Regions from separate parts of the Homo sapiens genome. Here all the other regions are linked to region 5. Evidence: fine-mapped QTL for protein levels in blood plasma. A gene starts in region 5. Each other region holds a variant in brackets. All regions are shown on one strand. Distances are from middle to middle. Region 1 has its middle 380 kb from the start of CCSER2. Region 2 holds the start of LRIT1 (leucine rich repeat, Ig-like and transmembrane domains 1). Region 3 has its middle 13 kb from the start of CERNA2. Region 4 has its middle 390 kb from the start of CCSER2. Region 5 holds the start of CDHR1 (cadherin related family member 1).

What was found. PIP is the chance, under the fine-mapping model, that this variant and not a neighbour inherited with it causes the effect. Protein levels are from antibody-based Olink assays in UK Biobank. Linkage for the fine-mapping came from a reference panel and not from the study's own genotypes, which makes the PIPs less certain.
Region 1: its variant is fine-mapped to the plasma level of the CDHR1 protein (UK Biobank, PIP above 0.99).
Region 2: its variant is fine-mapped to the plasma level of the CDHR1 protein (UK Biobank, PIP above 0.99).
Region 3: its variant is fine-mapped to the plasma level of the CDHR1 protein (UK Biobank, PIP above 0.99).
Region 4: its variant is fine-mapped to the plasma level of the CDHR1 protein (UK Biobank, PIP above 0.99).

The regions. Positions count from the first base shown.
Region 1 is chr10:84,709,936-84,716,350 of GRCh38, forward strand. No RefSeq gene overlaps it. Among named protein-coding and RNA genes, the nearest start is that of CCSER2, 380 kb to the left of the region's middle. The variant A/G (reference allele first, on the strand shown) is at 4,010.
Region 2 is chr10:84,238,697-84,245,111 of GRCh38, forward strand. LRIT1 (leucine rich repeat, Ig-like and transmembrane domains 1) reads right to left here and starts at 2,850. Exons shown (of 4, transcript NM_015613.3): 1 at 2,622-2,850. The coding sequence starts at 2,743. RGR (retinal G protein coupled receptor) reads left to right here and starts at 6,357. Exons shown (of 7, transcript NM_001012720.2): 1 at 6,357-6,415. The coding sequence starts at 6,395. The variant G/A (reference allele first, on the strand shown) is at 3,678.
Region 3 is chr10:84,155,612-84,162,026 of GRCh38, forward strand. No RefSeq gene overlaps it. Among named protein-coding and RNA genes, the nearest start is that of CERNA2, 13 kb to the right of the region's middle. RefSeq lists enhancers at 1-214, 5,290-5,791, 6,124-6,415. The variant T/G (reference allele first, on the strand shown) is at 3,571.
Region 4 is chr10:84,720,011-84,726,425 of GRCh38, forward strand. No RefSeq gene overlaps it. Among named protein-coding and RNA genes, the nearest start is that of CCSER2, 390 kb to the left of the region's middle. The variant G/T (reference allele first, on the strand shown) is at 3,263.
Region 5 is chr10:84,191,957-84,197,709 of GRCh38, forward strand. It overlaps CDHR1 (cadherin related family member 1), which reads left to right and starts at 2,581. Exons shown (of 17, transcript NM_033100.4): 1 at 2,581-2,859; 2 at 3,538-3,633; 3 at 4,549-4,694. The coding sequence starts at 2,805. RefSeq lists silencers at 2,477-2,606, 2,677-2,796.

The DNA.
Region 1 (6,415 bases), 520 kb after region 5:
AGTTTTCTGCTCATTTTGGGTTATGTTTTTCTACTTCTTTAAATGCTTGCTAATTTTTGATTAGATGTCGGGAATTATAGATTTTATCTGTTGAAACCAGGTATTTTTGTGTCCCTATAAATGTCCTAAGGTTTTTCAGGGATGTAGTTAAATTACTTGGAAGTAGTTTGATTCCTTTGGTTCTTGCTTTCAATCTTTGTTAGGTAGGACCAGACAGATCGGAATTTATTCTAGGGCTAATTGTTCCCACCGCTGAGGTAAAATTCTTCTGTGTACTCTACTGATATCTTATGAATTACAAGCTTGACCTCACCCTGGTGGGGGTGCATCCTCCAGTAGTTTACTAAGAAGGGAAGGTATTTGAGAACTTACATATCTTAAAACAACTTTTATCCTACCCTTATATTTGGTTGATAGTTTTTCTGAGTATAAGCTCTGGTAGAAGTTGAAAAAAAATTTCTTTCAAGATCTGAAGGTATCATCCTATTGCTTCTAGCTTCTTGTACCGCTTGTAAAAATTCCAAACTCATCTGCTTCCTAACCCTTTGTGTGTGACCTGCTATTTCTTTCTGAAATGTTTTAGAATTGTCTATTTGTTCGAACTTCTCTAAAATTTTATTATGCTGAATATAGAGGTGTTTCTATCATTATCCATTTCCTTGGGCATTTGGTAAATGCTTTCTATCTGAAATTCTTGTCCTTTAGTTCTTAAAAATTTGCCTGAATTATTTTGCTAGTAATTTGTCTGTCATTTGTCTTTCTGGAAATTACATTGTTTGGATGTTAGACCTCATGACCTAGTAATTTTATCTTTTTAAATTAAAATGATATTTTTCATCTCTTTTCTTTTTAATTTCTGTGATTTAAAAAAGTTATCTTCTAAAGTTTCTATTACCTCATTTCCCATTTGCCCTGAGAAAACTGCACTGGCAGCTAGCTGCACTTTTTTTTTTCTAAATGGGAAATGAGTCCAGTTTCTTTGTTTCTGCTATTATGTTTCCCATTTCTAAGAGTTGTCTTTTGTTTTCTAATCTCCCCCTCCTCCTCCTCCTCCTCTTCTTCTTCCTCTTCTTTTTCTTCCCTCATTCTTCTTCTTCTTCCTCTTCTTCTTCTTCTTCCTTCTTCTTCTCCTGTCTTATTTTTTTCAAAGATGGATGCAATGTCTTTTCCTTTTCTGCCAGTGGTTCCTTTCTGTTTGCTTGTCACTTAGTTCTCTGCATTCCATGTTAGAGGCTGTCTTCACACGTCTGGTAGTCCTTGGTTGTTTGCTCAGGCTTAAGAGTCAAGTGACTTAAGAGATAATCACATGCTATGAATTATTTGATGTACTTCTGGACTGTGAGCTTCATTGTAGAAGGATCAGCTTGAAATATTTACCTGGGAACCTCTGGGATTGGTGTCATCAGTGTCTTCCTTTGGGCTGGTTGGGTTCTCCAGAAAAGGCTCTTCTAAACTTCTGCAGGGAAGGTGTGGCTGGTCACTAGTGTTCTGGAGTCCAGGAAGAAAGAAGGTGGTGAATGTTTAGTATGCAAGTTTCCTTAATACATCTGTTTCCCTTGTGCTACTCTGCCCTTAAGTGTGCATGGTGTTTCCTATTCACAGACAATCTTTTTTATTCTCCCCAGATAATAATTCTTCAGACCAGCTGAGATAGGGAAGAAGCAATTTCCCAATGGTTTGTAATTGGGAGTGGGGATCTATTTTTTTTTTTTTTTTAAGAATTTATTAGGTACCAGGCATGAGTATACATTCTTAACAAATCTTAACTTACAAAGAGAGAAATGTTAAAATCCCATTTCTCAGATACAAGAACTAAAGCACAGAGTGGTAAAGTAACTTGCCCAACACTACTTAGCCAGTAAATGGCCAGCTGGAATTGGGCTCCTTATTGTATCATCTTGACAATACCACACAGTCAGCTCCAGATCTGACAGTTACACAGCTTTCAAATGATCCTCCTTTTCTTAGCTACCTCCTCCATTCTACCCCACTTCCAGAGGTGACACCTGGTGCTGCCAACTCTGAAGCCTTTTGAGGATTCTGCATTCTTCTTTGGATTGTTTCTTGGCTCTCCCTACTGTTGGCTTAGAACTGCCAAGTCAGTTACCATTCACCCATCTGCTTTCCAGCCTCCAATATCAGGGGGATGTTGTCTTCTCTCTTCGTCTCCCTGCCTTTTGAGTTTATTCTTTTTAAACAAAATCTCCTTGCTGTAGTTTCAGTGGGATTACGAGAGAGGGTGCTTTAGATGCATGTGCTCAATCTGCCATCTTTACCTTAAAATCTTGGGATGGAAGTTTCCACCACCCTGGTGTGAAGACAGATTTAATTTGAATCACAGGTTATGGAGAAATGAATGTTTCTTGCACTCTTAAATTTGTGGATACAACTTATTCTGTTTCATATGCTCTGATACATATTCTTCTTCTTTTTTTTTGAGACGGAATCTTGCTCTGTCACCCAGGCTGGAGTGCTGTGGCGCGATCTTGGCTCACTGCAAGCTCCGCCTCTCCGGTTCACGCCATTCTCCTGCCTCAGCGTCCCGAGTAGCTGGGACTACGGGCGCCCGCCGCCACGCCCAGCTAATTTTTTTGTATTTTTAATAGAGACAGAGTTTCACCGTGTTAGCCAGGATGATCTCGATCTCCTGACCTCATGATCCGCCTGCCTTGGCCTCCCAAAGTGCTGGGATTACAGGCGTGAGCCACCGCGCCCGGCCCTGATACATATTCTTATGTCTCTGAGGAATTCACACGTGTGTCTCTGTAATTTGGACATTTTGGGGATGTGTTCATGTTTCTTAAGCAGAAAATGACTCCTCAACCACCCAATCTCCACATACACATTAATGAGCTACCAAATCTTGTGAAGAATATTAACCTCTGTGGCTTTAGCTTCCTCATTGGCAGTATCCTCTTTTCCTTAAGGAATAAGCTGGCCCGTGCATCTGGCATCCTTCTGCCCCTGGCATGTTTGATTTTATGAGTCTGTGAGATTACTTAGTATATAGTGCACCCCATGTTTGCAATTTTTCCCTCTGGTGGAGGTTTCCCATGTGTGGTCCCTTTGTTTCCTGGACACAGGCATAGGTCCTTGCCAGCTGTCAGGCTTCTTCTCATCCCACTCGTCCAAAAAACTAATGTCTTGGCAGGTTTTGTGCTGAATTCAACCTCAGTTACAGCCACTTACTGACCTTCTACTCAGTGGCAGGTGCTCTCTTAACACATGCAGCACACAGAGATGAACTAGTCAAGTCCTGCTGTCCAGAAGCTAGTGATCCAGCAGGGAAGACAAACACATAGCTCAGTATCATACTAAGAAATAGGTTCTTTGATAGCAGTGAAAATAAAATGTGCTGGAAGAAGCACAGGGAAAGAGTGATGAATTTTGCCTGTAGGGATGAGGCAAAGCTTCATACACACTGTGACACATGCATCAGTTCTCACGGGAAAGTACGAATGTTCTAGGCTATAGAAATAGTGTTGGCAAAGGGGGGATGATGTGGGAGAGAGGGAGAAGAGGGAGAGCAGGGAGTGAAGTACAGTGAACATGTGTTGCTATTTTCTGCATATCAGGAGCCTAGATAGGCATGGTGGCAAAGAGGTTATCCTGAGAGAAGAGAGAAGGTTGGCTGAGCAAAAGCTAGTTACCTGGTTGAAGCCTCATTCTGGAGTTTGATTGCCTGGTTTGCAAACTTAGTTTCATCACTTACAGACCCTGTGACTCTTGGAAAGTTGCTTTACCCTTTGATATGGTTTTGCTCTGTGTCCTTGCTTGTATGTCATGTCCAGTTGTAATCCCCAGTGTTGAAGGAGGGGCCTGGTGGGAGGTGATTGGATCATGGGGGCAGATTCTCCCTTGCTGTTCTGGTGATAGTGAGTGAGCTCTCATGAAATCTGGCAGTTTAAAAGTTTGTAGCACCTCTCGCTTTGCTCTCACTTTGCTCTCTTCCTCCAGCTCCAGCTATGTGTAAGATGTGCCTCCTTCCCCTTTCCCTTCTGCCGTGATT[A/G]TAAGTTTCCTAAGGCATCCTCAGCCATGCTTCCCATACAGCCTATGGAACCATGAGCCAATTAAAACTATTATCTTTATCAATTACCCAGTTTCAGGAATTTCTTTATAGCAGTGCAAGAATGGACTAAGATACCCTTTCTTCAGTTTCCTTATCTGTAAAACAGGAGAGATTATACAAATAAAACAAACTGATGCATGTAAATATTTTTGCACAGTATATGACACATAGGTTAAGTGCTCAAATGATGGCTTTAATTTTATATGCCTGTTTATCTTTTCATCCTTCTATTCAACTATCCACTTCTCTTTATGTCTTTTCTTGTTGTACAAAGGTTTTGACAGACAGAAAAAGGTATTGAAGGGCTCTCAGGGAGAGTACGATGAGTTCAGTTTTAGATGTTATGAGTTTGCTGTGCCTGTGGGATACTCAAGTGGTGATGTCAAACAGAGATTTTGAAAATTTGGTTCCAGGTGTTCATAGGAGAGGTCAGAGTTGGAGATATGGATTTGTGAGTGACAGGTGAAGTCAATGGCGGGAATGAGATTAGAATTGGAGGGGAGATTGGGAATGAAGTCTAGGGCATTAGTACCTTGATGAACTTCTCCATTTCAAAGTAGAAAGAGGAAGAGGAGAGAGGGAAGGTGTATTACTCTGCTTGGGCTGCCATAACAAAATACCAAATACTGGACAGCAGCATAAACAACAAGAGTGTCTTGTTTCACAGCTCTGGAGGCTGAAAGTCCAAAAATCAAGGTCCACAGGGTCAGGCTCTGTTGAGGACTCTTTTCTTGGCTTGCAGATGGCCACCTTCTCATTGCATCATCATGTGGCCTGTTTTTGTTGTGTGCAAACAAGGAGATGGAGGGAGAAGCAGGAAGAAAGAGAAAGTGGGAGAGAAAGAGCTCTCTGGTGTCTCTTCTCATAGGAACACTAACCGCATCTGATCAGGGCCCCACCCTTATTACCTCATTTAACCTTGACTATCTCCATAAAGTTGCTATCTTCAAACACAATCACATTGGAGGTTGGGACTTGAATTGTGTACCCCCTCCCCTAACTCATATTAGGGGAGGGGGGACCCAATTCAGCTCATAGCAGAATGTGACTTAGAAAAATAGAAGAGGTAAGGAAGAATTTGAGGGACAGCAGGGAAACTGGGGGATGAGAGAAGTTCTTGAAAATGCAAGGCCAACAATGTCAAAAGATGCAGTAATAATAATAAAAAAAGAATAGCTACAATGTCATGTGTAACTATTGTGGGTAACCCTTTACATGAGTTACTTCGTAATTCCTCATATCATCCTGTGCTGTCAGTCCCTTTTTGAGTTGAAGAAACTGAAGTTGGTAGAAATTGAGTAATGTGATGGCGCTTCCCCAGCTGGTTAGTGGAGAGCCAGTTTTCAAACATGGGTTTCTGATCCCAAGTTGTGTATTATTTCCATTGTGCTCAGTTGCTCTCCTGGCGGGAGGTTGATGTTGAGAAGAGGTCACAGGGTTGGAGGGGTTTTGGGATGGGTCAGTGATGGTATGAGAAAAAGGGTGCTGGTCTAACTTAGGCCCATGGGCTATATTTTCTGACCCTTGCTAAGAGAAACATAACTGTGACTGTAAAGAGAGAGGGAGGTTAGTGGCTGGTTAGGGATGGGTCAATGGTGGTATGAGAAAAAGAAGGGCAGGTTTCAGGATGTGGGTTATACGGGGAAGTGGGGAAGTGCAGCCTGGTAAATCTTAGACCATTGTGCGGATTGTAAGTGCCCTTTGACATGTTGTCTATTCATGGGAAAGATGACTCTATAGTCAGTAGCTCTAGGAAGCCCAGCATTCTGTGTTTCTTGGTATCAGAACGCATTTGCACAACATTGGATGTTTTCTTCCCTACCCTTGCTTATTGGAGCTGCATCGCTGGCCAAAAGCTCTGCATGGGTTTTGACTGCAGGCAGGTGCAACCCAACAGCACCTCACCTCAAGCATGCACCTGTACCTGATGCTGCCTGCTGTCACCATGGGTCTCTTCTCTGGTTCCCACAGGTTGTTGGATACATTTCCCCCTGATTCCTGCATTACACACAATCCTGCAACGTGGTGTACACAGGAGCCAGCATCTGCCCCCTAGTGGCAGCCAACTTGGCAGTGCAGCCTCATTTTCCCTCTCTGCTTCCCCCGCCTTGTCCCTGTCATGCTCCTTGGGATTGTACTTCCTAACAAGGCACATAAGTCTTCCTAAATAGTGCAGAAATCTTCTGCCTCAGGCTCATTTCTTTTGAAAATGAAGCTTTTACATGCAGGCCATAACACCCCTTCCTTTAGAGATTCACAGTGTGTGTAAGCATAATATAGTTTCTTTTTTTTTTTTTTTTTTTTGAGACGGAGTCTCGCTCTGTCGCCCAGGCCGGACTGCGGACT
Region 2 (6,415 bases), 47 kb after region 5:
ACCCTGCATGAGCCCAAGGGTATGGATCACTGTCATCAATGTTTGCATCTCAGCACTGCAAGTAGATCGGGTCAGTCTTATCAGCTCTTCTACCCAAACCACGACTTCTTAAACCTTATTCCATTAAGTTTGAGACTAAAGCAGAGGATAGAGAGATAATAGGAGGCAGTCCCTGCCCTCAAGAAGCCTACATTTCAGGGCTATGTTTTATACTACGTAAACTGAAAACAAAATCCTAAGCCCCCCAGCCACTGAACAGGCCCTTCTAAGGGAGGTTGTTCTCTTGTAATAGCATAACCTACTGGTGATATCAGGCTTTCCTGGAGGTGCACACACATATCACCAGCATCCCTCAGCATAAGTCTATGCTCCACTTAAAGGCAGCTGGGCTGGGCTTGTTTTTTCTTGTAAACAGTGTCCACAAACAGCACGGATATTCTTACTCACTCCTTTTGAGCAAATATACATGGAACTCTTACTAAGTGATGAGCAATTCAGAAGAGAATCAGCCTCATAGCCCCTGTCTCCATACAGTGTGTAATCTAGCTCAGGAAGAAAGAGCATTTACAGCAATGATATTTCCAGATACTACAATAGGTTCGGGCAGGTGTGATAGCTCATGCTTGTAGTCCCAGCTACTCAGAAGGCTGAGGTGGGAAGGTGGCTTGAGCCTAGGAGTTGGAAGCTACAGTGAGCTATGATTGTGCCACTGCACTCCAGCCTGGGTGACAGAGCAAGACCCTGTCTCAAAAAAAGTAATACAGGTTTGGGTATTGCAAGGAGGAAGGTCTGGATGTAGGTGAGAGAAAGACAGGTGATTGGAAAACTTATCTTGAACGGGAGAGAAAACGGTAAAAGGGGCATTTAAAGGAAACCATAAGAACTCAATGCAAGCCTACACCACAGCTCAAACCTCCAGCACAACTCCGGGTGGGGTAAAACCAGAGGCAAACTGGGACAAACAGCATGGGCACAAATCCATTCAGATGCATAGCCCAGCTCCTCCCAGGCAACCCCAGTGCCCACAGGCACACACTTCACGATACAACAGCTCAGACATAAAGGCTGGGCTCTCTGAGAGGCCCAGGTTAGAGAGGGATCTGAGGAAGGCTTCTGACATGCAGAACGAGCTTTGGTCTAACTGCACAGTCTGTGCCCATAGCCACAGGGGACCTCAGGGCCCGCTACCACCTTTCATGGCCTCATAGGACCCTCCATGCAGATGGGCTGGTGCATGTTAGCCATGGGATAGTCAGGCGGGTAGAACCAAGAGCTCTGGCTTCAGAGAAGGGAATGCCCACTGACTTACATTAGCGGCCCTAGAAACTCATTTTCCATCTTAAGATTAACTCTGCTGCCTGGAACTTACCACTGGTCCCTGCCCATGGCAGCATCACCAGATAAGTGTTCTGAAAACTGAATCGGAATGCCTGGGTTCCAGGACCGGTTTTGTCAATGATGCTGTGTGGCTTTCAGCCCTATGCCTTCTACGGGTGGTGGGAGGCTTTTTGTCACTCCAGTGACACTGCCCAGGCTGGGAACAGCAGGCTGTTCAGGGCTCAGCCTGGCTTCTACTGGGGACAGGACCCTTACACTTCATATGAGTTGATGCCTTGGACACTTGGGCTACAGTGGAGCTCATTCTGGTTCTCAGATCATTTGAGGTGTCTTTTCTTAGTGGTTCTTCTCCATTCTCCTCTCATCCCCCAATCAACTCGACATTCATTGCCAAGATTATTAAAAGGGTAGCTCCAATAACATTGTTCCCAGGATCAGAAACCATCAGTGGCTCAGAAACCATGCAGAGGTCATTAATGGATAAGCTAAAGAAGTTGGAGAAAAGATGATTTAAACGTTGCTAAAGAAAAGAAGAAAATGAGCAGTAGTGGAAGAGCAAGGGTCCACAAGCCACAGTGGCATGGGAATGTCCCATGAAAGGAGAGGAGGAGAGAATGGAGGTGCTCTGAGGGATCAGACAGAGGGTGGGGAAAGTCAAGGAAAAGGCTGGGGATGGAAGGAAGCATGCTTGTCATGGGATGGGCACTCCTGGCTTTTGGAGCACTCATAAAAAGGTATTGAGGCTGAGGCTCCTGGGATCTGGCCAGCGAAGATGGAGAGGAGGAAGAGAATGAGAGGCAAGTGGTCCCATCATGGGTGGGGTTGTAGGAAATGCCTGGGATATGATTGAATATTGTAGAGAGGTCAGGCAAGAGAGTGCAAGTGGCCTGGGAAAGAAGGGGCTGGGGAAATATAGAAAAGAAGAGGGAATAGAAAAAATAAAAGAGAAGAAAAAGCAGTAAGGGAGGAGATTTCCTGGACCTTTAAGGAGGGCTCTTCACCAGGAGCCTGGAGGAGGACTTAGGAAGGACTTCTTAGAACTGACATACTTGTGCCTCACCCTCGGGCCCATGTGTATAGATACCTGGTACCTCTCGAATAGAGTCACCCCCTTGCCTGCTGGAAAACAATGCAGCACAGTCCACCCCATAGGATCCCTGGTCCTCAAGGGCCAAGGGAGATGAAGACCTCACCCAGGGCCCCAGCTCCAACTCCTCCCAACCCAGCCTAGCTGGCAAAGCAATGGAGGCTGGGCTGCCCGTCCCACGCACCCGGTACCATACCTGGCCTTGCTGCCATCACCCATGATATGGAGGCTGCAGCTGCATTGAGAGGGGCAGAAGCCCCGGGCCTGGGGGGGCCACGCAAGGGCCAAGAGCCAGAGCATGCCTAATGCCACCCTCATGGCTCCTGGCTCCTCTCTGGCCCAGGCAGGGGCCTGTCCCTGGACCGCTCCGTCCCACCGGCCCAGCAAGCTCAGCAGCTGCCCACTTGCTCGCCAGCCCCTTACACCCCCTCCTGAGGCCATCGGATAAACATGGACAGACTGGGGATTAGGGAGGGGAGTCCCAGCCGCAGCACTCAGAGGCTTATTGCTTTCTGAATCACTCAGTCCTGAGGGTAGGGGCGGGGGACCCCCTTCCATAGCAATATCCACAGGCCCAGAGAGGCCAGGGCAGGGCACAGCAAAGCAAGACAAGTAGGCAGCTTTCCAGAGGCGAGCAGCCATGGGACTGTCATCTGCAAAGCATCCCATCCCAACAAGGCCACGGACAACACAGACCCCACTGGAGTGCCAGGGAAGATGGAGAAAGAACCCCCGCCTCAGTAAGGGCCTTTGGAAATTCTTTCCTGTGACACTGTCTCATAGCAAAAAAGCAGTGAAATGAAGCAACTCTTCCTGATGGTGCTAAAGGCATTGGAAGGAGGCTAAGCTCTGGACCCAGGCTTCCTGGGGTCAAATCCCAGCTGCTCCATTAAGGGGCTGTGACCTTGGGTGAGTCACATTATCTCTTGGCCTCTGTGTCCTTATCTGACAAAGAGAAATAAAGTTACTTCATGCAGGGTGTTTGTGAAAATCAAACTCAAATTCCAAGGCCTTGACAGCCTGTGGGAACAGAAGCTCTCTCACAAGTTGTAAGTGCCCAGTTTCACTGGTACTTATAAGACCCTACTTACAGAAGAACTGGACAGATTCAGATATTTTGGGGAGACATCAGAGGTGTCTCTCATGAGCCCACAAACTGTCCCAGGCTGCCAGGCAAACAGCTGCCTGCCTTGAGTGCCCCATGGATATGGACTCAACACACTACTATTTCAGCTGAGCCCTTCTGGGCATT[G/A]CTACGAATGCCAAAGGTGGAGATGTCTCCACATAAGGGACAAGGGCACCCCTCTCCTCAAGGTGCCCTACTCCAAGGAGGGCCCCAGAGAGGTAGCTCAGAGAGGTCTTAGAGAAGGCACTTTCAGGTTTTTTTGGAGACAGGACCCCAACCTCTAATAAGGGCCTTTGGAAATTCTCCATCCATAAAGCTTTGTTTTGCTTTATAGGGACAGGGTTGCTCTGTCACTCAGAGTGGAGTGCAATGGTGTAATCATAGCTCACTGTAGCCCCGAACTCCTGAGCTCAAGCCATCCTCCTGCCTCAGCCTCGCAAGTAGCTGGAACTGCAGGCAACCACCACCATGTTTGGCTATTTTTAAAAAATTATTTTTTGCAGTCAGGGTCTTGCCATGTTGCCCAGGATGGTCTCAAACTCCTGGCCTCAAGCGATCCTCCTACCTCAGTCTCCCAAAGTGCTGGGATTACAGGCCTGAGCCACTGCACCCAGACTAATTTCAATTTTTACTTATTCTCTCCTAACCCTATCTCGCCCCACCATATCTACTCAAGATGCCAGTGGGGACTGACCAGGGATGATTCCCAGCAGTAGACACTCAGTCGACTCATTCATTCATTCTTCACATTTGACCCTGAGGCATTGTTCTCTGGTCCAGCATGCCCTACCTATGTTGTTTGGCTTTTCTAGAAGGTTCCCCAGTCCTTCATGCCTGTGGCTCCAGGCAGGCCTAGACCAGTGAGGTATGACCTGCAAAGATATCTGGGGCCCCAGTGCACACATAAAATGCCTAGCTCGGAGCCAGGTCTGTTTCAACAATACTGGCTTCTCATTCTTTCCTTCCTTCCAATGCAGCCAGTAGGATTTTCTCAGTGCTTCCCAGCTATACTTCCACCTCCCCAAACCCAGCCGTCAGCTTGCCTGTTCCCACATCTCTGCTTCTTCCTCCTTGTGTCTTTTGCCCAAATGAACTTTACCCTTTAATCTTGGCCTTGCCCTGCTTTATCTCCTCTCATGAAGGCTTTTGTGATCTCGAAGGCATGAAAAAAGGACTGACATATGTATTAACCAACACCATAAGGTAGAAATTGAGACAGAAGGCCAGGCAGGGTGGCTCATGACTGTTATCCCAGCATTTTGGGAGTCCAAGGCCAGCAGATCACCTGAGGTCGGGAGTTCAAGACCAGCCTGACCAACATGGAGAAACCCTGTCTCTAATAAAAATACAAAATTAGCCGAGCATGGTGGCACATGCCTGTAATCCCAGCTACTCGGGAGGCTGAGGCAGGAGAATAGCTTGAACTGGGGAGGTAGAGGTTGCGTGAGCCGAGATTGCGCCATTGCACTCCAGCCTGGGCGACAGAGCGAGACTCCATCTCAAAAACAAACAAAAAAACAAAAAAGAAATTGAGAAAGAACAGGGAACGCTCTGGAGGGCGCAGCCATAAGCTCAGCCCTGCAGAGGGATTAGGCTTGGATGTAAGTGAGGACTCATGAGAGGAAAGGCCTGGGAAGTGGGCATTCCTGGAACAGAGTGGGTTGCTCTACCAGGTGAGTCAGAAGATGCCATTGAAAAATGCCTGAGCCTGAGGAATAGGAGATCGGCTTTTGTTCCAGCTCCATCCATAAATTACTGCATGGCCTCAGGCAGATTCTTAACTGTTTTTAGCCACAGTTTCCTCATCTAAAATGGAAAGGATAATGGTATCTAACTCATGGAGTTGTTGTAGGACTCATCAGAAGATCCCCTAGCACAGGGCCTGACCTCACTCAATATTAGCTATGTTGCTGATAGTGCTCTGGAGCTTGGTTTCTTTATCTGAAAATGAACTAAGTTGTCCTAGATCAGTATTTCCTGGTGTAAATTTTATCATGAGCCAGAGCATAACAGTGCATAAAGAGCCAGTGTATCAAGAAGTCATTTGTAGCAGCCAAAGCTCTTAGTGGGGCCGGCAAGGCTGGGCGGGTTCGGGGTCGGAGACTGACAAGACGGCAGGCAGCCCCTCTGTTCTAAGACAGTGTCCTAGGACATTTTTTATGCTCAGGTGCTCTATGGGAGACAGGAAATGCAGCCCTGAGGTTTATATTCGTGATATCTAACCAGGACTTATATAAAGGCCACAGACAAAAGACATTGACATTGCAGAAAAGTAAACGGAAGAGTCCAGTGGTCCCACTCCAAGGCGCATAACTAGTTAGTGGCAGATTCAGAACCAGAACCCCAACCCCATTTTCTGGTCCCAGATGGGGTTCTTCCTCTGACAGCAGGCGACTTCCCAAGCCTCATCCTTTCCCCAGCGCTTTGGAGTATACTCATGTGAGCCTGAGGACACACACACAGGCACCAGGCTTGTTGGGAACAGCTGCGGCTCAAATCCCTCCTCCTGCTCCCCTCCCCTGGTTATGCAACTCTTTTCCAATTAGGCTCTCAGCCACACACCATTTGGATTCCCCGACCTTAATCCTGTGCAATGGGGCTGAAATGAATGAGACAGGGCTCCATTCTGGCTTCACAAAGGCTGCATTGTCCAACTCGTGAATGGGTTCCTTCTGCTTGGGCCAAGAGGACCATTTGCAGCGGGGAGGCATCCAGAAACAGCCCAAGGTCCAACATAATAACCTGCATGTGCCTCCACGCACATGGGATGGCCCTTTAAAAGGGAGGGCCTGGCTGTGGGAAGCCAGAGACAGCTGGGCCACTGGCAGTGAGGGAGAGTGAGGATGGCAGAGACCAGTGCCCTG
Region 3 (6,415 bases), 36 kb before region 5:
TACTCAGGAGGATTGCTTAAGTCTAGCATTTCGAAGCTGCGATTGTGCCACTGCACTCCTGCTGGGCAAAAAAAAAAAAAAAAAACTAGGAAGACAGGCAGGCATGTTTACCTTGAAATTGTATCTGGGTAACGTGTCCAGGTTAAAGGTACTAAAACTGAGTGATACCCAAGACATATAATTCCAGTGGGGTAGGGTGGCCCAGCTACACTAGTAATAGCTGATGTTTGAATTGAACTCTTTGCCCAAAGTTTGATCTTTGCACAAGGTCATATGGCTGGGAAGAATAATGAGACAAACTCCCTAACCAATTATGCCGGGAGGATAGATGATAGATCTAAAATCGTGTAGGACACAGCCATATAAAAGAAAGCAAGCTTGTCCTTATAGAGTTAGCTGGAGGCCATCATCCTGTTACAAACAACAAATTAACCCAGGAACAAAAAAACAAATGCCCCATGTTCTCACAAATGGGAACTAAACATTGGCTACTCATGGACATAAAGATGGTAATAATAGATACCTGGGATTCCTAGAGGAAGGAGTGGGGCAAGGGTTGAAAACCTATTGGACACTGTGCTCGGTATCTGGGTGATGGGATCATTGGTACTCCAAACCTCAGCATCACGCAGTATACACAAGTAACAACCTGCACATGTATTCCATGAATCCAAAGTAAAAGTTGAAGAAGTAGAATTTTGCTTGAGAATCACAAAAGCACTATACAAATTAAATAGGTTGAGATTCTATTAAAGTGTAAGTCACTTTTAAAATCTTGGGAATCAGTATTCTGAGTAAATTAAAGGAAATAGAACAGGAACATTTTAGTTTTCTGTGAAAAAAAAATTGACCTCAGTGAAGGATACTGGAAATCATCGTGCCTTCCTCACATCTATTTCTTACGGTACAAAATAGTCCTTTTTTGTATTGCCCAGTTCACTCCGAGCTACAAATCAAAATTGACCATTTTTTAAGGTCAATTTCATCAATAAGATGAAATCCTAAATGCATTCCATTTTTAACTAGCACAAAATGGAAATGACTTTTCAGGAATAGATTAGAAAGCTATGACCTTGAGGACTTTCCACCTTTAAAGTAAGATTCTTTTGTGAAGCAATTCAGGAAGATGGACGGTGAACATTCAATTCATTAACATCTGAGAACCATGAAGAGAGTATTTTTTGCCACAAGCAAAAATGAACCTAAATAAAAGACTGGTGGGGGAGGAGAATCATAACGACCATTATGGCCCGCATCTTATGGGCTGCTGCGCAGTTAGCATGAGGGGAGGCCTTGCACAAGCTCTTCCCCTCAGCCTCAGCATCCTGTTCTGCCTCATTTGTGGCTTGCGTCAGACTGAGTCACCCAGCGCAATGTCACTCTTCCTCAGGGGACTTCTCTCAACCTTCCACCTTCTACAGAGAGCTTGATGGATGGTGAGGTTGTTGCAACCTCACTGGATACAGATAGTAGAAGTGCGAGGATCCCCGTGGCTACACTCGAGATAAAATTAATGTGTTCTGGCAGGACTGAATGGACGTTTTTCCTCACAACCGTATACGCAAGTTTAGTAGTTTTTAAACATTCAATTTATGCTTTCCACTGGGCAATTTGTAAAAGCAGCATGATGACCCACAGGTATGGTGTCAGTGGGCCATCATTCCTCCAAGTTAACCCTCCATATGCCTGACATGGATTTTCTCACCTGTGTCCCCAGAGTGTTTTTACACAGTCAACAGAGAAAACAGGTCCATGGCCATCTCATTGGAGGAATGTTACAGGTTTATTTTATTTGCTTAGTAGTTGAATTATCTCATTTCTAAGAGACAGCATTTTTTTGCATTTCATTTCTGAAGTGCATATTCTATTTCAGGATTTTTCTTTTTTTTCTCAAAACTAGCATGTCTTAAAGTCAGTGGCATTTTAAAATGGAAAAATATTTGCCGGTGGTTTTCTTTTTCCCATGATTTTCTAATACTTCACTGTCCTGTAAGAACAGATATCTAAAGCATTGTCTTTTGATAAATGACCTCAGTAACTAATTATTACTTATTTATGATTCAGAGGGGATCTTCTGAAGTACAAACAAGCTCACCCCACCCAGTTATGTACTTTTTTGAAGATTTCTTTTTCTTTTTTTTTTTTTTTTTTTGCTTAAGCAACAAAAATTTATTTTCTTACAGTTCTGGAGGCTAGAAATCCAAGTCCAAGGTTCCAGCATGTTCTGTTTTTGGTGAAGGATCACTTTTATTTTTCTGAGACCGAAGTGCTGGGATTACAGGCATGAGCCACCACACTCAGTCAAGGATCACTTTCTAGCTTGTAGATGGCAGCCTTCTTGCTGTGTCCTCACATGGTGGGGTTGGGGGAAGAAGAGAGAAGGCCCAGTTACGTACTTTTAAGTATGCAGGCTGAACGGACTGAGGTCAGCAACACAGAATGACCCCCAAACAGGAATATAAATGGAAGTTAAGAAAGGGCACGTTACTGGTTTGGTATGATCTGTTAGTAGAGTTAGGGATTTAATAGGTTCATTCCATTTGGTACACCTTGAGGGAATGAACTGTTAGCACCAGCTGTGGGGAAACACAAGGATGAATGGCTGGAAACCCATCATTCTAGAAGACAGCATCCAATGAGCAGTGGGAGTGGGTAGTTGCTAGGAGGATCTAATTCTAGAGAGAGAAGGCAGTGCTGGAGGCAGAAGCCTTTACTGTGGGTGGGGAATGTTAATCATTAGAAGCCACTGTTTTAAGAGATTAAATCAACATTTATTAGACACTCTAAAGTAGTACGAGAGTAGTTAAATGATAAGAAATAGCAACACACTTCAATGATTCAAGGTAATTATAAAATCATTATCCAGAAATTACAAGAGGTTTATTCAGACTAATTGCCACCGGAGTTCAGAGGACGGAAGCAAATATGAGGAGTGCATATAGGGACATTTGAGTCCAAACGCACCAGCCCAGAAGGGTTGGTACTTTGTGGAAAGGGGAATGTCTGGCCTGGCTCGCATGTGTAGCATCATGGGGACTTCCTGATCTCCTTTGCAGAGAACCCAACCTTCTCTGCCTGCAAGACCCTGACAAAAATGTGGGTATTCTTGAAAAGCTATAAAATGTCCTTCAGGACTCTGCTGTGTGACAATCAAATGACGCCACCCTTAACCACACTGTTTCTCAGAAGATGCAAGCATGATTGCCTTCCTCATTTAAATAGAACGGTTATTTAAAAAGAAGTTGGATAAATTATGACAAGACTTTCACTGTTATTAATTCTGAGTGGCAGAAAAAAATGGGCATTTGATAAGAAAATGGGGCTTTTGGTATCTTTTTTAGTACATTATAGCTGCCCTTAAGTAATTTTGTAAAAGGCAAAGGACACATGGGGAGAAAATGAAAATTATGGAAACACTTTACAAGGAGCTTTCCAGATCCGGGAACTAGTGGAATGGCCCAGGAAAGCAGTCTCTCCGCCCTGCGGAACTGAACCCAGGGCCTTCAGGGTCCTCCTAGCCTGGCTCCTTCTGTGAGGTTGAAGTTTACCCCGGAGTACATGGCCCTAGCT[T/G]CACCTCCCACATCCCTGCCCTTTCCTGGGTGTGCTAGGTGTGGGGGTGAAAATGCGGAGGCAAGGTGACACATGTCTGCTGGGAAGCCTGCTGTCAAATTGCAAAGTACAGAACAGACGCTGACAAACAGGATCCATCTCAGCCCTACCTGCAGTTTTCCAGCTCTAAGCACCGGCAAAAGAGGAAAGCTTTGGCACTGCTAATCCTCCTTTCTACACAACCTCCCTCCCTCCTGCCCGAGTTCCTCCTCGCACTTGCTCTGTTTGTCCTCTCACCTTTCTCTGTCAAAATCTGCACTTGGATATGAGCCTAGGATCAGTCATTTGGACCTTAATTTCAGTGTGTGTGCTTCCTTTGCCTCAAATTGTGGCAAGAAAAATAGTCGTTCCTCATTAAAGCAGTATCAGCTATCCTTGAGCACAAGTGGGAGGTTGGGTATTTTTTGGAGACAGATTGCTGTTGAAAAAGAAAGGAAGATCAGCAGTCCCACTACTGGCTATAAATTCTAGGGGAATTTAATCAGTATCTCGAAGAGATATCTGTACTCCTGTTTATCACAGCACTATTCATGATGGCCAAGATGTGGAATCAAGCTAACTGTCCATTAACAGATGAATAGATAAGGAAAATGTGCTATATATACACAATGGAATGCCACTCAAAAAATGCCTTTAAAAAGAATGAAATTCTGTTACTAGCAACAACAAGGATGAACCTGGAGGACCTTATGTTAAGAGAAATAAGCCAGGTACAGAAAGACAAAAAATGCACGTTTTCATTTCCATGTGGGATCTAAATCAAACTCATAGAAGCGGAGAGTAGAGTGGTGGTTACCAGGGGCTGGTGGGTGGGGGGGAATGAGGAGATGTTATAAATGATGTGTATTTATGGTGATGGATATGGTAATTAGTTTGATTCCATGATTCCACACTGTGTACATATAACATCACTGTGTCTGCCATGATAATATATTATTATAGTTTATCAAAAAATTAATTTTAAAATATACTTCATTATCATATTATAAATTAAAAATGAGAATTCTGCAGAAACTGGAAATCTAAGCCAGTGGTTACGATGTTAACCAAAAAGATCCAGAAGTTTAAAAAAAAAATTCCTGGGGAATAGTATTACATTTTGGATCAGCGTTAAGTTCAATTTCACTAGAATTTCAGGGTCAGAATGGCCTTGTTAGTTGAGTGTTCTAAACTCTTTTATCTGTAGTTAGGTACAATGGCATGTGCCTATAGTTCCAGCTGCCTGGGAGGCTAAGGTGGGAAGATCACTTGAGCCCAAGAGTTTGTTGATGAAAAGAATCCAACTCTGTAAAATATTTGAAGAGTTTTATTCTAAGCCAACTATGCATGACGATGGCCCATGACAGAACCCAGGAGATCACGAGAACATGTGCTCAAGGTGGTTGGGCTATAGCTTGGTGTTGTACATTTTAGGGAGACTTAAGATTTCGATGAATGCAGGTAAGATGTATATTGGTTCAGTACGGAAAGGTGGGACTACTCAGAGGGCTGGGGGGCTTCCAGATCATAGGTGGATTCAAAGATTTTCTGAATAGCAATTTGTTGAAAGTTTATCTAAAGATCTAGAATCAATTGAAGGGATTGTGTGGGTTAAGATAAGAGGTTGTGGAGACCAAGGTTCTTCTTATGCAGATGAAGCCTCCAGGTGGCAGGCTTCAGAGAGAATTGATTATAAATGCTTCTTATCAGACTGGATACTAGACTCTTAGTTAATTCTCTCCTGGATCTGGAAAAAGACCTGGAAAAGGATGAAAATCAACTCTACAGAATGTTGATTTTCCCCTCGAGACAGCTTTGCAGGGCCATTTCAGAATATGTCAAAGAAATACATTTTGGAGGTAAAATACGTATTTCTTTCAGGGCCTGCTAGCTGTAATATTGCTACAAAGAGTCTTCAGGTCTCTATTTTAACGTTAATGCTGGTCAGCTGTGCCTGAATTCCAACGGGAGGAGGGGGTAATGAGGCCTGTCTTCCCACCCATTCCCATCATGCCTGAACTAGCGTTTTAGGTTTACTTTAGAATGCCCTTGGCCCAGAGGAGGAGTCCACTCAATTGGTTGGGGATGGGGCTTAGAATTTACTTTTGGTTTACAAGTTTGAGGCTGTAGGGCACATAATATTATTGCACCTGTGAATAGGCACAGTACTGCAGCATGAGCAGCATAGCCAGAGGAGAACCTGTCTCAAAAAAGTAAAAGCCTTTTATCCTTAACTATTGTAATACTCAATTATAATAAACGTGGGGGGTAAGAAAAATTGAGAAAGGAAGGGAAAGCTATGTACCCCATTTCTGAAAATTGGCCACCTAAAATAATAAAAAATTATGTTCATATTGCATGGCGCTTTTAACATTACACTCTCATCCAGTGAATCTGTTCCTCTCCAGCTGCACCTACTATTTTACATCGAAAATAACAAAGGCACAGAGAAGTTGAGCAACTTGTGCAGGTCACACAGCTAAAACATAGGAGAGCGCTGGTTAGAGCATGGATCATGTGGCTGTAAAGCCTGTGCTATTTTAACAAGTGTAGGGGAGGTAGAAAGACACCAAATACAAGGGTCCTGAGTCCCCTACTTTAGGCTGAAACTTGGGCTGGGTATGAAGGGGTGGGGGCAAAAGACAGAAACTCCAGAGAGAGAGAGAGCAAGGCCAAACATGAAGGGGGTATGCTTATCAAGAGCCCAGGGACTGGTTTCACACATGCTTCAACACCAACCTAGAGTGGCCATGGGAGAATGAAAGACATTGCCTTTTAGTCTCATCTTTGTGGCATAGTGGAGATCATGACATTTCAGCACATTCCC
Region 4 (6,415 bases), 530 kb after region 5:
CTATGACAGAAGGCTGGGAATGACAGGGACCAGGAAAGGGATGGAGGAATAAATTATAAAGGAGCAAGAAGAAACTTTGGAGGATGTTGAGATGTTGAATATGTTCATAATTGTGATGTGGTGTTGGTTTCATGGGAGTGAACACTTGTCAAAACTTATCAAACTATATTTTGAACATGTGCAACTTATGGTATGTGAATGATACCTCAACGAAAGTTTGTTTTAAAATCCAACTTGAAAGCCAACTTCCTTGGGCTCCACCTGTCCTCATATCAAAATTATGCCTTTCCTCTTTTTTCTACCTTCTCCAGCGGACTTCCTGAGGCCAGTGCAGGCACTAGGTTCATCTGGTTTATTATTATTCTAACGATGTCTGGCCTTAGAAAGAAATATAAATACTTATTGGCTGATAAATGCAAAGGCATGGATTTCGGGTTAGTTGTGCCCATGCTTGGATTGCTGCTCTGTCACTCATGAATGAATTTACGATCATTATGCTAAGCCTTTGTTCATTTATAAATTAGGGATAATCTGCCTCACAGAGTCATTGTGAGGAGTAAGTGTGAAAATGTTAGTGATGCACTCAGCAGAATGTTTAGCACCCCCAAGCTTTCATTCATGCTCCATTCCGCCTTAACTGGGGGCTCAATGGGGGATGTTAATGTCCGGCCCTGATGCCCACAAGGGAGACAATAAAAAAAAACCAATATTTTTGAAAAAATATGCCCAGAAGTGTGGAGCATACTGGACTGTTTCCTCCTATTCCTGAATGAGGCTCTTAGGCTGGGAATGCCCCAGAAAGCAAGGAGGTGGTTCCTCTGCAATGTACAGTCAATTGGGTTAGGGGCAATCAATGCCAAAGCATTCCTATAGAAACTCTTGAGAATCCAAGGTTAAACGTTGGGAGCCAGTGGAAACAGCATTAATCTTTCTAAAGTCACTATTGTGAAATTTTAGGACTGGTGTTCCCTAGAGAAGGGGCAGGTTGGATTTCTGAGTGCTATGTTCTGTATGTTTGTATCACCTCAAAATTAATATGTTGAAACCTAGTCACCAATGTGGGAAGTAATTAGTCACAAGGGCAATGCCATTATCAATAGGATTAGTGCCCTTATAAAAGAGCACTAGAGAATATTAGTGCCCCTAGAAAAGAGATCTCAGCTGCTTTGCCCCTTCTGCCATTTGAGAACACAATGAGATGCCGTTAATAAACCAGGAAGCAGGCTCTTGCTAGATGCTGAATCTGCTGGCACTTTGATCCTGGACTTCGCAGCCTCTAGAACTGTGAGGAAAAAATTTGTGTTGCTTTATAAGTGATCCAGTTTATGATATTTGTGCTATAGTAGCCCAAACAGACTGAGGCACTGAGTCACCTCCAACCCCGGCTGACTCCACACCTTCCTGGGTGGGGGATCATGCCTTCATTAGTGGCCCCTGGCACTAATCCTGATCTTGCCTTGGTTTAAAGTCCTGAGGATGGGCCAGGTCTTATGAAACATGCACATTCCCGAGGAAGGCAAAGTGACTGAGGGAGGGCAAAGGGGAGCTGAGCTCTACCGCAAGTGGAACTGAAGAGGAGGGTAATGGGCCCTTCACATATTATGACAGACAAATCAATATCTTAGCACTTTTGTTCCTCCTCTATATCTGAGATCAATGGAGAGAAAAACACTTCAAATTATATTATTACTATACACCTAAAAGGGGAAATACAAAATAATTCTGAGATAAAGTATTTCTGGTTATTTTAAGATAATTTTCTGAAACCCAGGTAATTACTGGGTCACTAATAGATAAGGAAAACCAGGGTGATGAAAGATATTACATAACTTAATTCTGGCTCTGTTCTGATTTTGGATCGTTATAGCTTAAACAGTAAATCCTGAATAACTCCATGAATTTCCACTGTTAAGTAGAAGAACAGAGAGAAACCCTTAGGGGCTTCTCTTTGAGAAAAGACTAAAAAAATTTACTATAGAGTTATAATTTAGATAAGAAATAACAAGAAACATTATAATAGATAAAGAGTCTCACATGTTTGTTCTGTTATATCATTGAAGAAAAGGTATCCAACCATCCTGAGAAGTAGGTGAGAATGTGTTATTCGGGGAAAAAAGAGCCACTTTAAAACTGAGTGAAAGCAAGACAAGCTGTACCCAGACTCTTAAAAGGTCATCAGGTCACATCTCTCTCTTAGTTTGAAGGTTAAAAGACAGAACAATTAAAAATAACAATAGCTACAATAATTTGTTAAGAAATACACAACATAAAATGTAAATTGTATCATCAAACATTTGAAGTTCAGGAGAGTGGTGTAAAAGTGCAGAGCTTTTTTTATGCCATGAAAGTTAAGTTGTTATCAGACTAAAATAGCCTGTTCTATCAGATGTTTTTTGTAAGCCTCATGGTAGCCACAAAGCAAAGACCTACAGTGGATAGACAAAAGGTAAAATGTCAGGATTCCAAGCATACCCCTAGAGAAAATCACTTAATCATAAAGAAAGACAGCAAGAAAAGAAAAGAAAAAAAGGATCTACAAAACAACCAGGAAACAATGAACAAAATGGCAGTAGTAAGTTCTTACCTATTAATAATTACCTTTGTGATATCAAGATATAAATTTTTTGATTTTCATCAGCGGTTTCTGGCTTACAGCTCCTATAACCCTCATATTTTCCTAGGTGATTAGAGAAATAAGAGTATCTTTTGTTGCCAGGCATGGTGGCTCATGCCTGTAATCCCAGCACTTTGGGGGGCCGAGGCAGGTGGATCACCTGAGGTCAGGAGTTCGCGACCAAACTGGCCAACATGGTGGAACCCTGTCTCTACTAAAAATACAAAATTAGTCAGGCATGGTGGTGCATCCCTGTAATGCCAGCTACTTGGGAGGCTGAGGGAGAAGAATTGCTTGAACTGGGGAGGCAGAGATTGCAGTGAGCTGAGATTGCACCATTGCACTCCAGCCAGAGGAAGGAGAGCAAAACTTCATCTCAAAAAAAAAAAGAATATCTTTTGTTAAAATATTGCCTTTTTTCCTGGGTTCTTGAGACAGCTCCAGAACAGCTGCAGAGCAATATAGGTGAGATATAGTCTTTTACTGTTTCTAACAAACCTCTTTCAACCACATCTGAGTTTATGTTAATGAGGTGAGTTTTGCAAATTTCCTAGATAACCATAGGTTTGTAGGTGGGTTGCCATGCACAATGTGCTAAAAGGATTGGAACTCATAGCACCATCCTCACCTCAGGGGAGGAGAAAAGGG[G/T]CTGAAGGCTGAACTGACCACCAATGGATGATGATTCAATTAATCATGCCTGCATAATGAAGCCTCTATAACAACTTTAAAGGACTGAATTCAAGGAGCTTCTAGGAAGGTGAACAAGAACATCTCCACGCATCAGGAGAGTGTTCACACGTCAACTCCGTTGGGATGAAAGGTCCTTTTCTTGGGACCCTTCCAGACCTCACCTTGTGTATCTCTTCATCTGGCTGTTCATTTTTATCCCTTAAAATACACTTTATGATAGACAAGTAAGTGTAAGTGCTTCCCTGAGTTCTGTGTGCCGCTCTTGCAAATTACTCAAATACTAAGAAAGTCATGGGAATCTTGATTTATAGTCAGTTGGTCAGAAGCACAGGTAAAACAACTTGGGGCGGGCTTGTGATTGGTGTTGGAAGTAGGAGGCAGTTTGGGGAAAGATCCCTCAACCTCTAAGAGATCTGATGCTATCTCCAGGTAGATAGTATTGGTAATGAATTGGAGAGGACCCAGCTGGTGTTCTGCTGCAGAATTAATTGCTTCCATAATATATGGGAAAAAACTCACACACATCTGGTGTCAGAGTTGTGTTGTGAGAATGAAGTGGCCACAATGACAGAGACATGGAGGCTAGATAAAGTGTCATGGACTAAGATTTAAAATGGCCAGTCAAGAAACTCTCCTCTGGATGTCCTACCTGCCAGCAAGAGAACCTATGCTCTGCTCCTGGGATGATGGTATTCTTTGAAGAGATTCATTTTCCACTTGGTGGTAAGTTGACTATATTGTTCCCTTCTATTCTGGAAGAGCTGGAGTTTTATCCTCTCAAGAGTGGATATCTAAGGATCGTCTTTCCAACTCGCAAACCTTAGATAATTATCGATAGAATTTCATATAACACAGCATTTGACCAGGGAACCAACTTTCTAGTCAAGGAGGTGTGGGAGTAGACCACTGACCTTGGGATCTACCAGTTGTACTGGATACATCATCACTCAGAAGCTTTCATCCTGATAGATTGTTGGAATGGCCTGCTGAAGGCACAGATGAATCACTGTTCAAGAAAAATACTCTGCAAAGATGGAGTACCATTCTTCAGAAAGTGGTACATGCATTGAAACAGAGAATTTTATGCAATGCTGTGTCCTCAACAGGAACAACAGATAAGTCAGAGAAACAAGGGGTGGAAGCAGGAGAGGCCCTACATGACACCATTGCTAATGTCTCAGTGGAGGAATTTGTGATTTCTATGTGCAGCTCTGAGCTTTGCAGAGTTAGAGGCCTCTGTCCCCCAGAAAGATACATGTTCACCAGCAAGGGTACAATTGAACTAAAATTTATGGACGCTGTATGGACCCACTGGGTTAACTGTGTCCAGAAATCAGCAGGCAAGAAGGGAGTCCTTGTTTTGTAATTGATTCTGATCTGCAAAGTTATCACCTCAACATTGAGGGCAGAAAGAATTTAGAATGGATAGTACAGAAGGGAGATGATGAATACCAATTGCAACCTGAATACCACCTCTAGCAATGAAGCCTGTGGTTCATCTCACTCTCTTTCCTCTCCTAAGTTTCTTCTAAGGAAGAGAGGCTCACTAGAGCCCTGAAGGAGCTGCTCTCTGGACATGTATGGAAAAGTCAAAGTGCAATGCACAAAAGGTGGACAATGGTAGACATGGAGGTGTGTCTACAGGAGAATGCCTGTAAAGAGAGGACTTCCCATCCAGTTGAGCAGATGTGGTCTCCTTCAGGATTTGTCTAAGCATATATTTTAAAATCAGATTTACTAAGGGAAAGTGTCTACATTAAATTCAAATTCTTCCTTCTAAACTTCTAAGAGTTTTGAAAAATGCATGCAGTTGTGTAGCCGCCAATAAAACCAAGATAAGGAACATTTTTATTACCTCAAGAAGTTATCCTGTGCCCAATAAAATCAATATAAAGAACATTTCTGTCACCTCATAGTCAATTTCTCCCCATACCTCCATATCCTGACAATCAGCGATCTGTTTTCTGTAGGTATTTTTGACTTTAAAAAGGGTAATAAATGGAATCACTCTGTATATAATCTTTTGAGCTTGTTTTTTTAATCAGGTAGCATAATACATTTGAGATTCATCTATGTCATGTTTATCAGACATAGATGAATCCTTTTTAGTAGGCATTGTATTCCATTAAATTGATGCATTCCATTATATAATGAACCACTGTTTGTTTGTGCATTTTCCTCTTTAAAGACTTTTGGGCATTTCCTGGTTTTGGTGATTATGAATGAAGCCACTATAAACCCTTGTTACCAGTTTTTCTATGAATATATGTTTTCATTTCTCTTGGGTAAATATCTAAGGATGAAATTGCAAGGCTGTTTATCAAATGTGTTTCATTTTAAAAGAAATGGCCAAACCATTTTCTAAAGTGGCTGTGTCATTTTGGATTTCCACTAATGGTGCATATGTGTTCTAGTTGCTTTATATTCTTCCCAGAATTTGGTATTGTCATTTTCTTTCTGGTAAATATTAGCCATCCTAATGGGTTGTGTAGTGGGATGTTATTGTTGCTTTAATTCAAATTTTTCTAATGATGAATAATGTTGAGCATCCTTTCATATTTTCATTTGCCATTTGAATATCTATTTTAGTGACTTATCTGTTTAAATACCTCCTCCCTTTTTACTGTGCTATTTAATTTCTTACTATTGAGTTTTGAGAGTTCCTTATGTTTTCTAGATTCAGTTCTTTATCAAATCTCTAATTTGCAAGTATTTTCTCACTGTCTATGTTTTTCTTTTTTAATTAATAGAATTTTTTTCAAAGCAGTTTTTAAGTATATAGAAAATTGAGCAAATAATACAAAGAGGTTCCATATACTCCCATCCCACCTCACAGTTTCCCCTGGTATTAGCATCTTGCATTACAGTGATACATCTGTTACAAATGATTAGCCAATATTGATACATTATTCTTAAATAAAGCCTATGGGTTATATTAGGGTTCACTTTGTGTTGTACATTCTATAGGTTTTGACAAATACGTAATGTCATGCATCCACCATGACAGTGTCATACAGGATAGTTTCAGAGTCCTAAAAATTCCCTGTGCTCTACCTATTCATCCCTCTCCCTCTTTTCGACAATCCCTGGTATTTACTGATCTTCTCAGTG
Region 5 (5,753 bases):
ATAAAGAGCTGCTGTTTTCCCAGGTCCTTAGGTGATTTGAGGACAGGGTTGTATCTAGGGTGACCGCCAAATACCAGGTTACCTTAGGCTTTGCTGGTTTTAGCATTGAAAGTCCTGCATCCCTGGAAACCCCTCAGTCCCAGGCAAATTTGGGCAGCTGGTTACACTAGCAGATCTGAACCTAAAACAGCTGAAGGAAGCAGCAGGAGTTGGAGTGGGGGGTGTGGAGGGTCTTTCTCAGACCCTTCTACATCAGAATAGAAGTCAGATGTAATGGTGCTGCCTGTATTCTCAGCTGCTCAGGAGGCTGAGGCAGGAGAGTCTTTTGATCCCTAGAGTTCAGGGCCAGCCTGGGCAACATAATAACACCCTATCTCTAAAAAGAAAGAAGAAGAAAATACAAAGTAAAATACAAAACTGGGGCTCTGGAAGGAATGTGTGATGTGTGAGTGAGAGGCCTAGAAGCTGAAGCTTCAGTAGATTCAAGATCATCTTCTTCTGCCATGAAAAGGGTTTGAACCAGGCGGGCACAGTGGCTCATGCCTGTAATCCCAGCACTTTGGGAGGCCAAGATGGGTGGATCACCTGAGGTCAGGAGTTCAAGACTAGCCTGGCCAACATGGTGAAACCCCGTCTCTACCAAAAAAAAAAAAAAGAAAAAAAATTTGCTGGGCATGGTGGCGTGCACCTGTAATGCCAATATTTGAAAGGCTGAGGCAGGAGAATCACTTGAACCTAGGAGACAGAGGTTGCAGTGAGCTGAGATCCGCCATTGCACTCCAGCCTGGGTGACCGAGTGAGACTCCAGCTCAAAAAAAAAAAGAGTTTGAACCTTCTTTGGAGCCAACCCAAACTGTATGTGAATCCAAGCTCTGCACCTCAGAGAGAATAAGTCACTTGCTTGGTCGTACACAGCCAATGAGGAAATCTCCCTCCTCTGCAAAGCAGAGAAAATCACATTGGGAGAGCAGTGCAGGTCAAATAAGATAATATGGGCAAATATACATAAGCACACATACAGCACATGGCATGTAGGCTACTCCTTCCCCTTCCCTCTCCAGTGCATGGCTGTTGACTGAGGGAACTGAGGAGAGAGAAATCAACGGCCCTAGATTGGTGAGGAGCAGGGCTAACAGGACCCAGGGAGAGCTGGCTTTTCTCGGCCCACCAAGACATCTACTCCAGGAAACCTTGGCTCTGCCTCTGGCTCCTGGGAAATCCACGGCAAGACTCAGTCTCCACATCCCTATATGGGACTTGCAGAATACTTGCCTTAGCTTTGTCCCAGCACTTTGGGAGGCAGATTCAGAACATCTGTGCAATTTAAAGTGTGTCTTTTCAGCAAAAGAGCCAAGCCTAAGGAGACTCAACAAGGGTTTCGGCCAATTAGGCCTGAAAACTGCTGCACATTCTAAAACCATTGATTCATCTTCCTTCTTCTCTGCAAATCCCTGACCCTTGCTCACAGTAGATCATGTAGGGCTAGACCAAGGGATGGGGGGTGCTCTGTTCCCTCAAAGGCCCCTGGCAGGGGGAGGGGGGGAATGCTGAGTCCTCAGCTGTGGAGACCTCTCCCAGGAGCACACAGAGGAGGGATCTCCTCTATCTGAGAACACATCCACCCAAGGGCATCCTGGGAAGTGGCCTGGCTTGGGCTTGAAGTGACCTGTACCCCCATAAATGGCCCAACCAGGAAAAGGAAAACAGGCTGCATTTCCAAGCACCCTCCAGTGTCAGAGCAGGAGAACGAGGAAGCCCAAGGAGCTTTACCAGCAGCCAAAAAGGTTCCTGGGCTTACCTGTGTCTTCAAGTTATCAGCATCCAGGACCCCAATAGCAGTGCCTTGCTTTGTGTAAATACCCTCTAGGAATGAGATCTCGTGCCTCTCGGGCAGTTCAGATCTATCTTGGCCAGCTCTGTGCAAGTCTGTCCTAAGATGGGGCTTAACTCTGCCTTCAGGCCCTTCACTCTTCCTTGGAAGGTTTGAAGAGTGGGTCAGCTGCCCCTTCATGGTCCCAGACTGGGCACTGACTGGGAATGGGGAGCAGAACTGCCTCTCACCCTGGTGGACACCTGAGGGTCCTCCCTGCTGCCCACCACACAGATCAGACCCTTTGGGAGAGGTGGTCCAGCCTGGGGAACAGGGCAGGAATGGGTTGAGATCACAGAGAGGGGGTCCTGATAACCCCTTACCATCTGCTGCCCATCCATCACCCTTTCTCTTTGCCTTTGGTCTCACGCGGCTTATAGAACCTGCTTAGACTGCTAAGGCAAGGCCCTCTCGGCCGCTCCACTAACTTTTCTTCTGGAATGCTTAGCTCAGAGAAGACAGCTAAGCCCCTGAAAGTCACAGAGGAAGTTGATGAGAAAAGAAAACTGCGAAGCCCAAGCCCCACCAGGACTTAAGTACCCTGGGAAAGCCTCAGGACAACTTGGGGGAAAGACACTCCTGTCCCCCATGGTGTCCTCCTGTCCAGGACTGGGGGCCGCCGGCAAAGGGGGCGTGGCGGGCGGGGAGTCCTCTTGTCACGCCCTCCTGCCCCCGCCCGCGGCTGGGAGCCTGTCGCTCCGCTCTGCGCCGCTAATTGGTCTCGTCAGGCGGCCGGCAGGAGCAGATCCGAGCCGTGTCATCCTCTTAGCGCCCTCACGCCACCCGCCGCTCCCGCCCCGTGCCCCCTCCCGCCGCGGCTGCAGTCGCCGCTACCCCCATTGTGGTCTCTGCCCTCCCCGCGGGCCCAGGGCATGCTCCGTGCCCCTGCGCCCGGTCTCGGCGGCGGCAGGCGACACTCCGCGCCGGCGGAGACATGAGGCGCTGCCGGTGGGCCGCCCTGGCCCTGGGGCTGCTGCGCCTCTGCTTGGGTGAGTGGCCGCTGGGCCGCGCTGGCCGCGTGGATGGCGAGGGAGATGGGCGCTGGCGTCACCCAGGTGGCCAGAGGGACATGGTCCTGGACCACTTCCAGAGTGGGACTCGGGCTGGTGGACGGGAGCGGAGAAGTCCTTCCATCTTCCTGGCCCATTCGGTAGTGGGGAGTGGGGTAGCGGAGTAGTGGGGAGCTCCGGGGCGCTTCTCCAGAGCTGGCATCCTAGGGCCCCAGGGTTTGGCGCCCGGACCCCCGCTGCTCTCCGCTTGCTGGGAACCAGAGCTGTAGGCTTGGTGGCAGCTCCGATGCTGCGTGGGGCAGGAGATAGTGCCCTGACTCGCGGCTTGACCTTGGCTGGGCTGGGGCACTGCCCCTCTCCGAGCGCGGGTGCAATCTGCCCATTGATGAAGGAGGGGTTGGATTGCTACCTGGGTTCTAAGCGCCCACATGCTACGTGTCCCTGACAAGCCCGAGCCCACCGGGGGCGGAGTGGGGGTCAGGGGCATCCTCTGGGCGGCGCCCCAGTGGGGTCCCTCGGTGCACTTGGGTTGGGGAGGCGGAGCGCCCTCCTGCCCAGTAGCTGGGCCTGACGCGGGACCGCGCTGGTGCGAAGCTCCCTCCTGGTGTCTGGGTGTCCTTTGCCTGGGTGTCCGTCTGTTCTGTGTTCTTTTTCCAGCTCAGGCCAACTTCGCCCCGCACTTCTTCGACAACGGGGTCGGCAGCACCAACGGAAACATGGCTCTGTTCAGCCTCCCAGAGGACACCCCTGTAGGTGAGTAGCCCTGGCACCTGCTCCCGATAGGTCTCCCTGAGGGGTGCAGGCAGACTTAGAACACAAAGTGCCCCAGGCACCACCCAAGTTGCTGCGCGCGCCCGGGGGCTCCTTGTTTGCTCTCCGAATTCCCCTGGGCAATGGCAGGAAAGAAGGTCATTGCTGCCATGGCGACTTAAGTCTGGCCAGTCCTGGAGACCAGGGCTCCCCCCCACAGACAGGGTCGCCCCGCGAGGCAGGCAGCTACAGCTGCCCCTTATGGCTGTGTGACCTTGAACAAATGTATTTACCTCCCTGAGCCCCAGGTCTCTAGGCTTTAAAACGGCCTAAGAACATCCAACTTGCTGAGATATGCAGAGAGAGGGGAGGAGAAAGGGGAGATTTCACACTCCTTCTCCCTCACTTTGTGGGTAGTGGGAACCCGGGGAAAAGGGAGAGCAGAGCAAAGTAGGCACCTGGCTCAGAAATCCCTGCAGAACCAGGTCCAGGCATCGGGGACAGTGGTGCACTGTGGGTCACCCCTCCTGCCTTAATGGCTGCTCCCATTTCCCCTTCCCTGTACCCAGGAGCCCCTCAATCTTGGATCCTGAGAGAGGAGTTATTACCAGGCTGAGCAGAACATAGGCACTACAGTTAGGCACGGCAGACCTGCACCTGCTCTGTAACCCGTGTTATAGATTACAATCTGGAAAGTGGCTGATCATCACAACCACCCGCTGTGAAGAATAAACATACAAAGAGGGAAGCAGCCAGCAGGGGTGAGGCCAGCAATGAGCACCAAGTTCAGGGCAGTACCTTTGGCACTGAGTTGAATAGTCACTTTATAAACAGCTGAATCGTTGGTCCTGAGCATCTGCCACTTTTAGGAAAAGTTGGGTCTCAGATTCTATGTCTCTCCACTGTGTTTCCTTCCAGGCTCTCACGTATACACCCTGAATGGGACAGACCCTGAGGGAGACCCCATCTCCTACCACATCAGCTTTGACCCCAGCACTAGAAGCGTCTTTTCTGTTGACCCCACTTTTGGAAACATCACCCTGGTTGAAGAGCTGGACAGAGAGGTATGGGGAGGTGTGGGGAGTGCTGCGGGGCCACTGCCTGTAGACAGACCTCGGTGGGCTGAAGTTCCCCTGGAGCACATTGGTTAGAACCTCTCCACAGAGTAGGGGATGAGGGGGCACACCCCAGGCACATCCACTCTGTGAGATCTCTGGGCCACTTCCCATCAGCAGAGTGGGCTTTACTTTCATGCTCCTCCTTCACACAGAGCGAAGAGTGGGCTCCTTTAACGAGCACCTGCCAGCCCTGCTAATCTTTTAAGCATGTTCCATTAAAAATAAATCCGTTTGCACTTTGAGGTTTCTGAAAGAAACCTCACAAAGTGATTTTTCAAGCCTGTCCTGGGAGAGGCACAGGAACTCAGAGCAGGTCAAGGCTGGAAAGGGTGGTTGGCAGTGAGTCTGAGTTTGGCAGAGCTCCTCCACTCTACACACTTGAGAACTTGCAGGCAACAGGGCATGGGCTTTTTCAGACCGCATAGCAGCCTGGTGTGTGGCTAACTGGACCTCAGCTGTGGGGATGCTGCCAGCTCGTGACAGCCTCCACTAGCTGCAGGACAGGGTAGAGAAAGGAAAGGGAGGTCTCAGGGACTGCTGTGGGGACACAGCAGTGGAGCCTGACTGTGCTGCCAGTACCCCACTCCCTGGCACCCGCGGGATCTGGCAACATCCGATACCCTTCCCCATTGAGGTCTCACCATATCCTGGGAGCACTGAGACACCATGGATGTGAGCCTCTGCAGAGCCCTGGAATGTGGAGAGGTGTGGAGAGAAAAGGGGAGAAAAGGGAAAAGAAAGAGGAAAAGTCTTTATGGGACCTTGAGCACACTAAGGTCGACATCTCGCCTCACTGTGGCAGGAGAGTATTTTCTGTTGGAGCCCCAACAGACCCTCTGGGTCTCTGAGTTTATAAGAACCCCGGACACAAAAGTCCCAAAATAAGGTCTCAAGCATGGGGGGAGGCAGCTTTCTACTCTGCCAGGCATGCTGTCACCACCACTTACCCTGCTCCAGGGATCTATTGGCACGCCCAGACCTCCTCTGATGGGTGCGTGGGGCAGG